2 separate regions of the Homo sapiens genome follow, and region 2 is linked to region 1. The links come from fine-mapping of genetic effects on gene expression. Tissue or cell type: whole blood. Region 1 holds a variant in brackets; the other region holds the start of a gene. All regions are shown on one strand. Distances are from middle to middle.

Region 1 (8,000 bases):
ACTGTTTTGGCCTGGCGTGGTGGCTCACACCTGTAATCCCAGCACTTTTGGGAGGCCGAGTCAGGCGGATCACCTGAGGTCAGGAGTTCGAGACCAGCCCGACCAACATGGAGAAACCCCGTCTCTACTAAAAACACAAAATTAGCCACCCGTGGTGGTACATACCTGTAATCCCAGCTACTTGGGAGGCTGAGGCAGGAGAATTGCTTGAACCCAGGAGGCAGAGGTTGCAGTGAGCCGAGATCACGCCATTGCACTCCAGTCTGGGCAACAGGAGTGAAACTCCATCCCAAGAAAAGAAAATTAAAAAAAAAAAAAATTTAACTTCATTGAATGAAAAATTAATGGAATAAATTTAATGTAAATTTCAGTTACTTATTTTATAAACTTAGCCTTAAAGGTTTTTCATGAGAAAATCTTAGTGGCACAGGCATTAGCGTGCAATTCTCAGCAAAATTTGAATAATTAGAAAACAAAATGCAGTTTTAATTATTAAAATAAGCCAGTGAATAATTAAAGTACACAAAAAATTTGTTCACCACTGTTATAAAGCAATTACAGTCTAGTATGTTTTTTGGCAGAATTAGTTCTTAGGAAGAATATACATTTTTTAAAAAACCAGAAGTATGTCATCACTTAGACATTTAAAATTTAGAATACAGCTTTCATGTTCTCATAGTCTGAAATGGTCTTAGACCAACTGCTTCTAAATAGAATAAAGAATTATTTACCCTATCCCACTACATAGCAGCTGCAAATATAGATAAATTAATAAATTTGCATTATTTCATTATGATATTAAATACTTAGAATAAAGTTATTTAGGTTCATGATTACTGTTGCAGTTTTGAAAGGGAAATAAACAGACTTTTTCCCTATCCAAGTTCCAAATTAATTAAAAGATAGAGAAGTTGGAAAATGGAGATTAATTGATTCATTCAACAAATATTTATTGAGCACCTAATGTATGTCAGGCACTGTTCTATACGCTAGAGGTAGTGCAGAGAACAAAAGGGATAAAAACTCCTGCCCTTATGGAGCTTATATTTAGGAGGAGAAAAAAACAAGATAAATTATGTATTATGTTAAATAATAAGTGTTACGAAGAAAAATAAAGCAGAGTGTGGAAGATGTGTGTGGGCAGGGGTGGGCTTGATAAGATTACATTTGCACAAAGACCTGGGGGAAATGAGGGAGGGAGTCACGTAGAGGGAAGAGAGCTCTGGGCCGCATGCGGTGGCTCACACCTGTAATCCCAGCACTTTGGGAGGCCGAGGTGGGTGGATCACCTGAGGTCAGGGGTTTGAAACCAGCCTGGCCAACATAGCAAAACCCCTTCTCTACTAATAATACAAAAATTAGCCAGGTGTAGTGTTGCATACCTGTAATCCCAGCTACTCAGGAGGCTGAAGCAGGAGAATCGCTTGAACATGGGAGGCGGAGGTTGCTGTGGTCCGAGATGGCACCACTGCACTCCAGCCTGAGTGATAGAGTGAGACTGCATTGAGGTGGGAGCCTACTACACAGTGACCGCAAAGGAGGGAGCTGGGAGAAAGGAGGAGTTCTGAGAGGTGGGGAAGGGCAGATCAGGAAAGGCTTATTGTAGGTTGTTGTTAGGACTATAGATTTAGCTGGAAGGGACGTTTCTTCCTGCTAAAACCTGGATCAGAGAATAAGGTTTTAGCCCTATGGCACAATGGGCTTCCTAATATTTCATCCTTGAACTAGACAGACATTTCCCCCAGGCACAGGAACACTGGAATGTCCATGGGCGTTTTCCACAGGGGCAGGGCCCTCTTTCTAAGCTTCTAGGGGCAGGCAGACCCAAACCTGGAAGTCAGAAGGGCCTGCACTGAGCAGCACTTGCCTGGTGGTGTGTACTCAATTAGTATTGAAGTGAATGAAATAAGAGAGGTTAAAATGATAGATGTTTATCCTGCTTATTTCTAAAAATAAAGTTAGTAGCTTTGAAACAGAAAGCACAAAGAAAGAGAATAGAAGTCTTAGAGAAAAGGGACTCTTTGGACTGAGTGCAAACACCCTATCGGGGGTTTAAATTGATACCCAAGAATACATGAAAAATTTAACACTGTATCACTAGTGCTTAAAAATGTTTCACGTCAGTCTTTTGCTATTCATACCTTTGTATAAAGGATAATATAGTATTTCAACTGAGAAATCATATTCAGTGTATGTCTTTTTTAGTAAGATTTTAAGGAGCTGGTTTGAAGTCATTTACATGTAAATTTTTAAATGACACTTGGAAAGATAAAGCGATTGGTGTGTTGCTGATTTTTTTTTTCTTCTTTTTAAAAGACTCTGTGGGTGGAATTTGCCTGCATTTAATTTGGGCTTGAAAAGAGTGTTCTAAGCTTGTCACAGTTTTGCCCATTGTGTGGGTTGAATTATTTGGCAATTTTTTGGAAAATGATCTCACTGCAACTGATGAACAGCAACCCAAACAGCCAAATTCTAGGAACAGACACAGGTGCAGACTTGATTTGCAGTCTTCCAGAACAAAAGAACTATAGGGAGGCAGACAAGAGGCAGCAGCCAGTTTCTTCGGGATGTTACTAGTGTTAGTCCTGTCATCACACATATTAATATAGCTAAAATAGCTCGGGTTGAATGTAACCAAATGAATGTCAGGCCGGGATTTGAAAATACACATCCAGCATTTTCCTGGACTTAATTTCATGTAATTATATGTGAACTATTCTGAAGGGAAAATGATAGAAAAAGAAACCTCTACCCAGCACCAATTTTTTGCTTATTGTTCAGTGAATTTGCTTTCTTAACACCTGGATTACATTAAAGTTTGGTTCAAAAATATAACAAAACCTAGGCTCTATGAGAGGCTGTGCAAAGCACATTGTGGTTAAAATTTTTCAAGACTTTTTTTTTCCTGAAATACTCCTAGGATATTTGAAATTACTGTTAGAATCTCTCCTGCCTCTCTCCCCTTCCACAAAATAAACCATACAATGCAAATTTATTTCTTAGGCATCACGTTCATTATTGTCCTCACCTCCTTGACAGTTTGCCTCTTCATTTTTTTCAAGCTTGAAAGGAAGATGAGCCCATGTGGTGATAGCTTGTGGTGCTATTTAGCTACTAAATTTTTAACCACCACAAATCAGTTACCTCTAATAATTAAAAATAAGAGAAAGGCAGGGTTTTTAAATAGTTATACCCTTATGCCTACATGTGCCAGTCAGAAGCTTGGCCATAAGCAGCAGAATGGACTCTGGCTAAGCAGAGGAGTATGTCAACAGGCTCTCATGCTGGAAGTGGCAGAAGACAGGCCCA[G/A]AAGAGGGCAGGAACTAAGAGAAGACAGGAGCTGAGACCAGGTTAACCCAGTAACCACCTGATGAGCTCTGCTGCCTACACTCCACCCTACCCCCAAAACTGTCACCTGCCACTGCTCTGGCCTTGCTGTGAAGGGTTTCCACCTCCCCTGAACCTTTGCATGACTCTCCACAGATGCAGTTTCACCAAGGGCACTACCTGGATTCCAGCACAGCTGACAGGGTGGGAGAGGGAGTGCCTGCCTGTTCCATTTCGTCCAAGGAAATGGGAGGTAGAGCAATAGAGGAGGATTCCCCTCAATGGGAATAGTGTTTGGGTTTGGGGACACCCCCCACAAAAGTAAATTGTCCACTATTATATTGTAAAGACCTGGGTTAGTAATTTTCTATGTGTTGGAAAATGGTTCTTACTGTTCTAAAACAAAGACATGCTCATGCATGATGTTTTTCTTTCAGATGGCAACATGATTTCAGCTTCTACCTTGATGGATATTTTGCTAATGAATGATTTTAAACTTGTCATTAATAAAATAGCATATGATGTGCAGTGTCCAAAGAGAGGTAAGAAACACAGCTATCCAACTATTACTTTTTTTTTTTTTTTTTAGATGAATTCTCACTTGCTCTGTTTCCCAGGCTGGAGTACAGTGACGTCGTCATAGCTCACTGTAATCTCAAACTCCTGGGCTCAAACAATCCTCCCACCTCAGCCTCCAGAGTAGCTGGGACTACCTGCATGCACCACCATGCCTGGCTAATTTTTTAACATTTTTTTAGGGATTGGGTCTCCCTATGTTGTCCAGGCTGGTATCTTCACTTTTACCTTTAGCTGTGAGGTTTCCAGAGGGAGCAAAGTTTATGTTAAGAATCTTAAATTTATCAGATGACCAAGAAGTCTTTGGAAAACCAGTGTTTAAGCTTTTCCAGCAGGGGTATAAGTGATCACCTACAGTTGCCTAGCAGGACTTTTAGTCCCGTATACTCTTTTTAGACTTTCAGGATTTTACTTTAGGATCTTGAATGCTTAACCGACATTATTGGGTTAAGAGAGAGGTAGGCCTGAAAATCAAGAATTCAAGTATACATGATTGTATAGCTCTTAACTCTTGTAAAAAAAAAAAATTGTATTATTTAAAGCAGTTTTAGGTTCAAAGCAAAATCGAGCAGAATGTAGAGAGAGTTCCCATATGCTCTCTGCACCCCACGCCCCTTATTGTCAATATCCCACACCAGACTGGTATATTTATTAAAATTGGTGAACACACTGACACATCATTGTCACCCAAAGTCCATAGTTTACATTAGGGTTTACTCTTGGTGTTGTATATTCTATAGATTGTGACAAATGTAGAACTACATGTATTCATCATTAATGTACATAATGTAAATAATCATCTTGTTTTTATTAATCTTTCTTAAATGTATATGTAGCTTACATTTATTTTAATATTTAACATTAAAAGTGTCTTGGGTCTTTATTTAGATGTTTAATGATGTTTTTATGACCAGAAATATGCTGTAAGAACCTAACTCTTGCTTATATCAATTAGCCTATGGTAAAATTGGTTTCCTTATAGTTGTTTCATTTAAAGTTGCAGTTTTCAAGAACCTGTCTATGACATTAAGAATTATACAGAATAGGGCCAGGCAAACTCTACCAAACTCTACCAAAATTCAAGGATGCTCAAGGCCCTGATACAAAATGTTTGTTATATTTGCATTTAACCTCCATACTCCCTTCATATACTTTAAATCTCTAGATTACTTACAATACCTAAGACAGTGTAAATGCTGTGTAAATGGTTGTTATACTATATTGTTTTTTCATTCATTTTGTTGTTGTTGTATTGTTAATTTTTATTAGATTTTTTTCCCAAATATTTTCAATCCATGGTTGGTTGAGTTCACAGATGCAGAACCCACAAATAAGAAGGGCTGATTGTATAGCCTTTTCAGATTCGCTTCTTTCTTTCTTTTTGGCAGGGGTGGGGGCGCATGGTAGTAGGGCCAGGGACATGAGAGAGCAAGGGAAGAGAAAATAGGATATTTAAGAAAGGGGGTACAACAGGGAAAATACTAAACAGTGAGAGAGAGGAGTGAAAAAAGGGGGAGAGTGGGAGGAAAAAAAGAAAGGCAAGAGGGGAAAGAAGAAGGGGGAAAGGAAGAGAGAGCAAAGAGAAGAAAAGGGAGTGATAAGGGAGGAGACGAGGCAGTAAAGAAGAAAGTGAAGAGGAAGGCCAGCTTGGCTTATTTCACTTAGTAATATGCATTTAAGTTTCTTTCATGTGTTTCAGAGCTTGTTAGCTCATTTCCTTTTAGTGCTGAATAATTGTTCATTATCTGTATGTACCACAGTTTATTCACCTACTGAAGGACATCTGGGATACTTCCAAGTTTTGGCAATTATGAATGGAGTTGCTATAAATACACATGCGCAGGCTTTTGTTTGCACGTAGATTTTCAAATCATTTGGTTAAATACCCAGGAACATGATTGCTGGCACATATGGTGAGAGTGTTTAGTTTTGTGTAAAACTGTCAAGCTGTCTTCCAAAGTGGCTGTACCATTTTGTGTTCCTACCAGCAGTGAATGAGAATTCCTGTTGCCCCATATCCTTGCCAGCAATTGGTGGTATTAGTGATTTGGATGTGATTTTCACCATTGTAGTAGGTGTGTAGTCATTGTTTTAATTTGTAGTTTCTTAATGATGTATGATGATGAGCATCTCTTCATACGCCTATTTGCCATCTATGTCTTCTTTGTTGAGGTGTCTTTTCAGATCTTTGCCCATTTTGTGATCAGGTTGTTCATTTTCTTTTGAGTTCTTTGTATGTTTGGGATAACGGTCTTGTATCAGATACGTCTTTTGCAAATATTTTCTCCCAGGCTATGGCTTGCTTTCTCATTGTCTTTCACAAGTTGAGGAAATTGCCCTCTGTTCCTGGTTTGCTGAGAGTCTTCATTGTGAATTGGTGTTCAATTTTGTCAAATCTTTTTCTGCATCTATTGATATTATCATGTGATTTTTCTTCCTTAGTCTGTTGATATGATGGATTACATGAATTCATATTCAAGTGTTGAGCCTTGCATACCTGGATAAATCCCACTTAGTTGTGGTGTAGCAATCTTTTTAGACATTGTTGTATTTTATTTGCTATTATTTTGCTGAGGATTTTTGTGTCTATATTCACGAGAGATATTGGTCTGTGGTTTTGTTTTCTTACAGTGTTTTTGTCTGGTTTTAGTATTAAGGTAATGCTGGCCTCATAGAATGAGTTAGGAAGTATTCCCTCTGCTTCTGTCTTCTGAAAGAGATTGTAGATAATTAATATAGTTTCTTCCTTTGATGTTTGGTAGAATTCACCAAGAAAATCCATCTGGACCTGGTGCTTTCTGTTTTGGAAATTTATTATTGATTCAGTTGCTTAATAGGTATAGGCTTATGTAGATTGTGTATTTCTTTTTGTGTGAGTTTTGATAGATTGTACCTTTTAGAGAATTAATCTATTTTGTCTAGGTTATTGAATTTGTGGGCATAGAGTTGTTCATAGTATTTCTTTATTTTCCTTTTAATGTCCATGGGATCTGTAGTTAAATCCTCTCATTTCATTTCTACCATGAGTAACTTGTTGTCTCTTTTTTTCTTGATTAACCTGGCTAGAAGTTTATCAATTTAATTGATTTTTTCCAAAGAACTAGCTTTTAACATCATTGATTTTTCTCTGTGGGTTTCCTGTTCTCAATTTCATTGGTTTCTACTCTATGTTTATAATATAGAATAGAATATATATTATGTAGAGTATATTATATACTCTACATAATAAATATTCTACTATATTTATTATCTCTTTTCTTCTGCTTGCTTTTCATTTCATTTGCTCCTCTTTCTCTAGTTTCTTAAAGTATAAGTTCAGATCTTATAGATGTTTATTCTTTCCTGTTATATGTATTCAATCCTATAGATTCCCCTCTGAGCATTGCTTTCACTGCCTTCCATAAATTTTGATAAGTTGTATTTTCATTTATTTTAAAATATTTTAATTTTTTTCTTGTGATTTCTTCTTTGACCCATGTGTTAGAAGTACATTATTTAATATCTAAGTATTTTGGGATTTTCCAGCTATCTTTGGGTTATTGATTTTTAGTTTAATTCCACTGAGATCCGAAAGCATACATTGTATTTTTCTTTTTTTACATTTACTCATGTGAGTTTTATAGCCTTCATTGTGATCTGTCTTGATGAGATGTTCCCTGTGAACTTGAGAATGTGTATTGTGCTGTTGTTGGATAGTCTATAGATGTCACGTTTATCTCAGTTGATTGGTGGTGCTATTGAGTTCAACTGTATACCCCGTGATTTTCTGCTTGGCAGATCTGTCCATTTCTAATAGAGGAATGTTGAAGTCTGTAACTGTAAACATGAATTCATCTATTTCTTCTTGTAGTTCTATTAGTTTTTGTTTTGCCTCATGTAGTTTGATGCTGTGTTAGGAGCATACACATTAAGCATTGTTCTGTCTTCTTGGAGAATTGGCCTTTTATTATTATGTAATGTCTCTCTTTACTCCTGGTAGCTTTCCTTGCTCTAATGTCTGTTTTGTCTGAAATTAATATAGCTATTTCAGCTTTCTTTTTATTAGTGTTAGCATAGTATATCTTTCTTCATCCCTTTGCTTTTCATCTATATATGTC
Region 2 (8,115 bases), 100 kb before region 1:
TGAAATGCAACAAGTGGATTGAGTTTGTAACTTAAAAAAACTTTTTTCCCTGTCAGTCATTGTCTTATATTATTATAGATTTGCAATCAATAGTATATGATGTTTCTAGAATGCAGCTGAAGACCTGGTATGTAGAGGCAATGTGAAGAGCGGTAGCAGAAGACCGACATCTATGGAATGATTCACAGCCTCTCAAGTTATAAGGATGGAGACCTGCTTCATGAAGAAGTTGGGGTGTGGTGGGGATGGATAGAACACTTAACAACATGAGATCAGTCAGGGGAATCTCCTCACTTCTGTGTAGCAGACGAGGAACCCAAGAGCCCCCAAATGAGGCTCTCTGGTTTGTTTTTTTTTTTGAGATGGAGTCTTGCTCTGTCGCCCAGGCTGGAGTGTAGTGGCACAACCTCGGCTCACTGCAACCTCTGCCTCCCCGGGGTCAAGCAATTCTCCTCCCTTAGCCTCCCGAGTAGCCAGGACTACAGGCACGTTCCACCACGCCCGGCTAATTTTTGTATTCTTAGTAGAGACAGGGTTTCACCAATGTTGGCCAGGCTGGTCTTGAACTCCTGATCTTGTGATCCGCCCGTCTTGGCCTCCCAAAGTGCTGGGATTACAGGCATGAGCCACCACGCCTGGCTGGCTCTCTGGTTTAATAAAAATTGTGTAAAGAATCTTATTGAAAGGTGACAATGTGCTGGCGGCCCTCGCTGGCTCTCAGCGCCTCCTTGGCCTCAGAGTCCGCTCTGGCCATGCTTGAGGAGCCCTTCAGCCCGCTGCTGCACTGTGGGAGCCCCTCTCCAGGCTTGCGGAAGCTGGTACCAGCTCCCTCTGCTTGCAGGGAGGTTGAGGGAGAGACGCGGGTGGGAACCGGGGCTGCATGTGGCCTTGCGGGACAGCGCGAGTTCCGGGTGGGCGTGGGCTCCGTGGCCCCGCACTCGGAGGGCGGCCGGCACCCCCGGCCCGGGCAGTGAAGGGCTTAGCACCTGGGCCAGCAGCTGCAGAGGGGGGCGTCAGGTCCCCCAGCACTGCCAGCCGGCCCGCGCCACGCTCAAATTCTCACCAGGCCTCAGCCACCTCCCCATGGGGCAGGGCTCGGATCTGCAGCCCGCCATGTGCAAGTCCCCCCGCGGTGGGCTTCTGCTAGGCCCTAGCCTCCCTGAGGGGCACCGCCCCTGCCTCAGCGGCGTCCAGTCCCATTGACTGCCCAAGGGCTGCTGAGTGCAGGCACGAGGCACGAGCGCAGGACTGGCAAGCAGCTCAGCCCGCAACCCTGGCATGGCATCCACTAGGGGAAGCCAACTGGGCTCCTGAGAGGGGTGGGGACTTGGAGAACTTTTATGTCTAGTTAGAGGATTGTAAATGCACCAATCAGCACTCTGTCTAGCTAAAGGTTTGTAAATGCACCAATCAGTGCTCTGTGTCTAGCTCAGGGTTCGTGGATGCACCAATCAGCACTCTGTATCTAGCTAATCTCCTGGGGACTTGGAGAACCTTTATGTCTAGCTAAAGGATTGTAAACACACCAATCAGCACCCTGTGTCTAGCTCAAGGTTTGTAAATGCACCAATCAGTGCTCCGTGTCTAGCTAATCTAGTGGGGACTTGGGGAACCTTTATATCCAGTTAAAGGATTGTAAATACACCAATCAGCACTCTGTATCTAGCTCAGGGATTGTAGACACATCAATCAGCACCCTGTCAAAACGGACCAATCAGCGCTCTGTAAAATGGACCAATCAGCAGGATGTGGGTGGGGCCAGATGGGGGAATAAAAGCAGGCTGCCAGAGCCAGCAGTGGCAACCTGTCTGGGTCCCGTGCCACGCTCTAGAAGCTTTGTTCTTTTGTTGTTTGCAATAAATCTTGCTGCTGCTCACTCTTTGGGTCTGCACTGCCTTTATGATCTGTAACACTCACCGTGAAGGTTTGCAGCTTCATTTCTGAGGCCAGTGAGACCCGAACCCACTGGGAGGAATGAACAACTCCGGACGCGCCACCTTAAGAGCTGTAACACTCACTGCCAAGGTCTGCAGCTTCACTCCTGAAGCCAGCGAAACCACTGAACCCACCAGGAGGAAGAAACTCCAAACATGTCCGAACATCAGAAAGAACAAACTCCGGACACGCTACCTTTAAGAACTGTAACACTCACCACCAGGGTCCGCGGCTTCATTCTTGAAGTCAGTGAGACCAAGAACCCACCAATTCAGGACACATTATCAAGATTCTTCACAAATGTTAATAGGGATTTTTATCAGTTTTAGTTGTAGTTTCCAATTTCTAAAAATGTTCAGGTAATTTTTTTACACCTTTCAGAACCTAGCTCATGAGTGTTGAATCAATGCTTTTTCATGTCAATTCTTTGTATAGGCATTCTTTTCAGTTGTATTAAACAAGAACCCTTCACAACAAAAAAACAAAAATACACGCTTCTTTCACTTGGAGCACTAGCTAATAGGAGGAAAAGATTCAGGTAAGGTAATTTACCTTCCCATATGAACTTAAAGTTTCATGTGTCACTCTCCATCTGGGGCAACTGTATTTTGAAAGACATGCTAGTTAACACAGGTGAATCAGCCTTTAATAGTGATAAAGTTTTTACTATAGTAGAAACTTGTGATTCTTTCCCTTTTCAATAAGGAAAGGAGATTACCGCCAGGAGTGATTTGCCACTTATTGCAGGTTTGCCAATTTTGATTCATTAACTGAACCCTCTTGCAGATTCAGGAGATAAAAATGCGGAGTGCCCAGTTAAATTTGAATTCAGATAAACACCAAATAATTTAGTATATCCCAGATATTTCATTTTTAAAATAATAAATGTGACCCATGCAATATTTGGGACATACTTCACTATTTGTATCTAAAATTCAAGTTTAACTGGGCATCCTATATTTTATCTAACAACCCTACTGTAATTGGTTTAGGTTGCTCTTTAATGCCTTTGGTTTGCTTTCAAAAATAAGTAGTCTCAAAACAAAGCATCCGATTTCCCAGTAGTTAGAAGAACTCAATACCGGTTCCGAAGCTTCTTCAATTAAAAACGTGCTTCAAAAGAGAAGCCAATTCTGTGGGAGATACTTTCCCAAAAAACTCGGGTTTGGGCCCCTATACCGTGAACTACAAACCTCCGCAGGGGTAGGCCCGGGCTGCCCGCCTCACACCGCACTCGCCAGCGAGCAGGGGCCCGGCACCGCAGCCCGGGGCAGAGGCCTTGGAGGTTGTGGAGGTGGGAGAGGCCTCGGCCGACCCGCTTCAATCCGTCTTCTCCAAGCTCGGTGGGGAAAACAAACTTCCTGAGCGGCCCTGCCCCCTCCAGATGCCGGACGCTGTTTTCGTCTCATCCCCGTCTGGGTTGGATGGCGAAGACGGCGCTCAGAGCACGCAGCACCGGGAATTAACAGCGAGTTTTGAAATCTAGAGCTCGCAAGGTGTGCGTCGCCTGCTGCTGTTCATTCCAGAGGGTCTTCTGCTGGAGAAGGAGGGGGCCCTCGACCTCGGGCTCCCGCTCTCGGGCTCCCGCTCTCTCGCTCTCTTTTTTTTTTTTTTTTTTGGTCGGAGGAAAGAAAACAGCCCTGCGCCCGGATGCGTAGAGAGCCGACAAGTGGAAACAGGGACACACCCTCCCGTGAGCCCGCCCAAGCTGGAGCCGCGGCGCGCTGAGCGAGCAGGCGGGGCGGGAGCGCCCACAGCTCGGAGCCACCAGGCGCTGACGAGGAGCCCGGCTGAGGGAGGATGCGCCGCTGACGCCTGCGGGAGCCGCGCGCCTGGGGCGGGAGGATGCTCCAGAGGGGCCTCTGGCCGTGGCGCACGCGGCTGCTGCCGACCCCTGGCACCTGGCGCCCAGCGCGCCCGTGGCCGCTGCCGCCTCCGCCCCAGGTAAGAGCGGGTGCCGGGCTGTGGGGGTTCGGGGTAGGCTGGTGCAAAGTTTGCGTTGGACAACTTTGGCGGGAGCAAAAGCCGAGCGGCCGAGCAGTCAACTGCGTTTTGCTGGCTGCCGGGCTCCGCGCGCCGGGCGGTCCCGACAGGTGGTGGCCGGGCGGCCGACGTGGGTCACGGAGGCCTGGGCTGAGGTCAAGACTCCGGGCCCGGGGAAGGTGAAGCCAGAGCGCTGCGGCTGGGGGTGCCTCACCCGGGCCGAGATAGGGTGCGGGGACCACCAGACTTCGGCCTGGGAGCAGCAGAATAACCTGGGAGGCAGTTTCTGGGCTGCAGCTCTCGGTCAGGAGCAAGTTTCCAAAGCCGCTGCGCCGCGGGGCCGGTTCCCTCTTGGTGATCAGTGCCCGAGCCCCTAAGGAGCCCGGAAACGATGAACGGGGCAGTGACCGTCCCGGGTGTGGACGGTCGCAGGAGAGTGAAATTTCCATCCTGAAATCTGCGAGCACCTCCCTTTCCCAGAAGGAAGAAAAACTCGCGTTTTGTTCAGACACCCGAGAGACGGGTGAATCATGAGTGTGCTGGTGAGTAACAGTTGGCCTGACACCGTTGTATTGTGGTCTGTGGAGAACCGTGGCTTGGAGGAGTAGAGAGTGGATGTGCACCAAAAAAGACTAGAAGAAGGGGAAAGCGCTGAGTTTAAGGAGGATTGCGATGGAGCCTGACAGGAGCCCGGGAGTGCAAACTCTGACCCAGATGAGGAAAGACAGCCAAAGCCTTCAGGGTGTGTGTGGTTGGGGAGGGAGCTGTTTCTGAGTTTTCGTTTGTTCCTCCCCCACACTGTTAAGATTACTTTCAGATTGTTAAAGGCTTAAAAGCCAAAAAGTAAGCAGTGTGATTCTCTTGTCACTTTCACTTCCTGTTTATTTTGTTCTTTTTTTTCCTTCCCCCCCTTTTCCTCCAGCTGTCTGAGGGCTTCAGTTTCAATTGATGCAGGGAATATTTAAGTGCATTTTTTTTTCCTTTTCATTGAGCTTGTGACCAAAGGATTAAGTGCATTCAGAAAATCAATTCCAGGAATGTTTGAAAGAGAATGAGGAAGGCCATGTTGTTACTAAATGTAAGAACAGGGGCAAACTCCTTAAAATGTAAAATGGTAGACTTATAAAGTCATTGGGGAGATGGGCTTTTTATACTTTTAAAGGTTGTACTTTTACTGTAAGTGTTGCATTGTGTAGTCAAAGAGATACCAAACATTAAAACAACCCAATACGAGGAACCCCTTTCACATGCCATTTTAAACACAGATTATTGTTTTTTGTTGTTGTTTTTGGAGACGGAGTCTTGCTCTGTTACCCAGGCTGGAGTGCAGTTGTGCGATCTCGGCTCACTGCAACTTCCGCCTCCTGGGTTCAAGCGATTCTCCTACCTCAGCCTCCCCAGAAAATAGGATGACCGGCGCGCGCCACCGCACCCGGCTAATTTTTGTATTTTTAGTAGAGACGGGGTTTCACCATGTTGGCCAGACTGGCTGGTCTCGAACTCCTGACGTTGTGATCCGCCCGTCTCAGCCCCGCAAAGTGCTGGGATTACAGGGGTGAGCCACCGCGACCAGCCCCAAGTGTTTTCTATTAAGTCCATTTAACACGTTGAGTAGCATTTTTGTGGATCCCGGGACTGGCTGCCCTTTCTCAAATTATCACCTGCAAATCCTTTTCTCCATATTTCCCATCTGATGCTGTCTAGGGTGGTGCCATTGCATACCTCAGCAGGAATGTGGATACCCTTTTAAAAGAAAATGGTACCATCGGGCTTATTAGGCCTAATAACAGGGAAACAGTAGTTAGGAATCATCGTAAGAAGCGTTATGTTTGAATGTTTCTAATTTGCAAATTTTTGTTTTAAGCCAACTGTCCAGCTATAAAGACAATTTTCAGAACTTGAGAAGTGGAAATGCTGTTCTTTATATACAGCTTTTACATTTTACCATGAGTAAACCGATAAAAATATTCTGGCTCTTGAGGAGTTTTAGCTAGGACTACTAAACCATTTTCTGCTAATCAAATTACCTGGCTATCGGGACATTTTTCATTCTAAGATATCACTCTTTTGTGGCTTTCCCACTTGTTATGAAATATCCTGTGGGTAAAGGCAAGTATTATTTCTATTTATTTTTTTTCCCAGAAACATTCAGACCCCTAGAGCCTATGAAGCAGCTAGAAAAACAAGTAGTTTGTGACCTGACAGCTCATAAAATCTTAGCTTGCAAGGACTTGTCGTAAGCAGTATTTCAAATAAGCGTTCCCAACTATAATTGGTCTTTCTGAAGTCTTTCACACTTCTATGAGTGTGCCTTATAGGAGCATTTAATAACTTTGAAAAATACACAATTCTCATACTTCATATTGTATGTGAGCAATTGTCTGCTAGTGTTTTCTGGGTGAGGGGAAAAAAAAACAGTTTGTTGACATGGATATACAGAATTGTTTTTTAAAGAACACATTTAGTCTGAAGCGTAGTAGAGCAAGAGCATATTGTATTCATCTTTGGGCAAGGCATGGCCTGGTGGCCATAATCACGCTCTGGTGGCAGCATCTCTGCTTGTCAGCACTCTAGCTGAGTGGTTGTCAGGGCAATCCATGGCTCCTGCTGATGTTTCTGTGCACAAAGACTCAGCTTTGAGTAATTGTGGTGCTTGGTGAGTTACATCTGAACAGAAAGCCCTTGCCTAAATGTGCCTTTCTTAATTTGGATTTTGTGCTACTTAGACTGAGAAACTCCCTGATACGATTTCATGTCCCCAGTACAGCATTTGAGTCCATACATAAGCTATGTTTAAAAAATTTTTACATCAAGCACTCTGCAGAGCAGCTTAAGTATCGAGTATGCTTTTTTTAACTTCTAGAAACAAAGCATATGGATGTTTAAATTCCACCACAAGATGTCAACTTAGAAATTGTTTTCATCTTTTTAATTTAATGAACATATCGTTCTTGTTTGACATGTTCCTACTATTCTATCTCTTGTATTTGCAGTTGGTACATTGTATTCTATTCTATAAAACTAACTTCAGAGCCCTCTCCTGAGGAGAGCAATTGGTTAAGTGTTGGTGATTGTATTTACGCTATGGAAAAGACATTGATGCTTTGATCTCAAAGTAATGCTAGACCAGCTTGTCAATTAAATATTAAACATTACCACTTTTGCAGCACTTAAGTATTAGTGTGTTTTTTTTAGATTTTGCTTGTTATTGTGATTAAATGGTATTAGTGCTGTTTTACAGCAAATTCTAAGCTAGGAAATCATTTGTGTCTTGGCAGAAAGATATTTGTTGAATGAGGTACCTGTGAAACTAAGGTAGAAAACCTCGAGCTAAAACTCCTGACCTCGTGATCCTCCTGCCTCAGCCTCCCAAAGTGCTGGGATTACAGGCGTGAGCCACCGCGCCCAGCCCACAGCACTTCTTAAAAAAATAAAAGTAAAGGAAAAAGCCAGACCTAATAATCTACTCAATCTAGTAAATATCATAAGATCCTCAGGAAGAACTCATATTTGTGGGGTGACCCTTGCCAGTCTTCAAGATTTTCCTCTCTAAAGTTTACCACAGCAAAGCTTTGTGAACCTGTCAGTTTCTTGATATGAGATTCAATGTTTTATGTCATTTCTTATTTATTTCTGCTTATAGGCTATATGCATTTCTTTCTTTTCTTTTTTTTTTGAGACGGAGTCTTGCTCTGTCGCCAAGCTGGAGTGCAGTGGCGCAATCTCAGTTCACTGCAACCTCCGCCTCCCGGGTTCAAACGATTCCCCTGCCTCAGCCTCCAAGTAGCTGGGATTACAGGCATGTGCCACCATGGGGGCCAGCTAATTTTTTGTATTTTAGTAGAGACCGGGTTTGGTTTCACCATGTTGGCCAAGATGGTCTCGATCTCCTGACCTCGTGATCTGCCCACCTTGGCCTCCCAAAGTGCTGGGATTACAAGCATGAGACACTGCGCCCGGCTGGCTATATGCATTTCAAGTCTAGCCCCATATCTTGCCTCTCTTTCACTGTTCCCTATTTCTTGCCCTCAAATCTATTCCAAAAAAATTATCTTCAATAGACCTTGTTTATCATGCAGATTTCATAGATGATTTCTCATCAATATTGTGAATCCTGGACTGAAATCTGTTCCCTAAAGAGCTGCCAAAATGCAAACCTGATCTACAATACTTGTAGTGAACCTGTAATTAAGGTAA

What was found. PIP is the estimated chance that this variant, and not a neighbour inherited with it, causes the effect.
Region 2: it holds the start of MCUB, and the variant in region 1 is fine-mapped to the expression of MCUB in whole blood (TOPMed, PIP 0.97).

Annotation. Positions count from the first base shown.
Region 1 is chr4:109,660,526-109,668,525 of GRCh38, forward strand. It overlaps MCUB (mitochondrial calcium uniporter dominant negative subunit beta), which reads left to right. Exons shown (of 8, transcript NM_017918.5): 4 at 3,765-3,869. It also overlaps a transcript of CASP6 not described here. Among named protein-coding and RNA genes, the nearest start is that of CASP6, 39 kb to the right of the region's middle. The variant G/A (reference allele first, on the strand shown) is at 3,310.
Region 2 is chr4:109,556,558-109,564,672 of GRCh38, forward strand. It overlaps MCUB (mitochondrial calcium uniporter dominant negative subunit beta), which reads left to right and starts at 3,689. Exons shown (of 8, transcript NM_017918.5): 1 at 3,689-3,879. The coding sequence starts at 3,781. RefSeq lists a silencer at 3,636-3,955 and an enhancer at 4,376-4,575.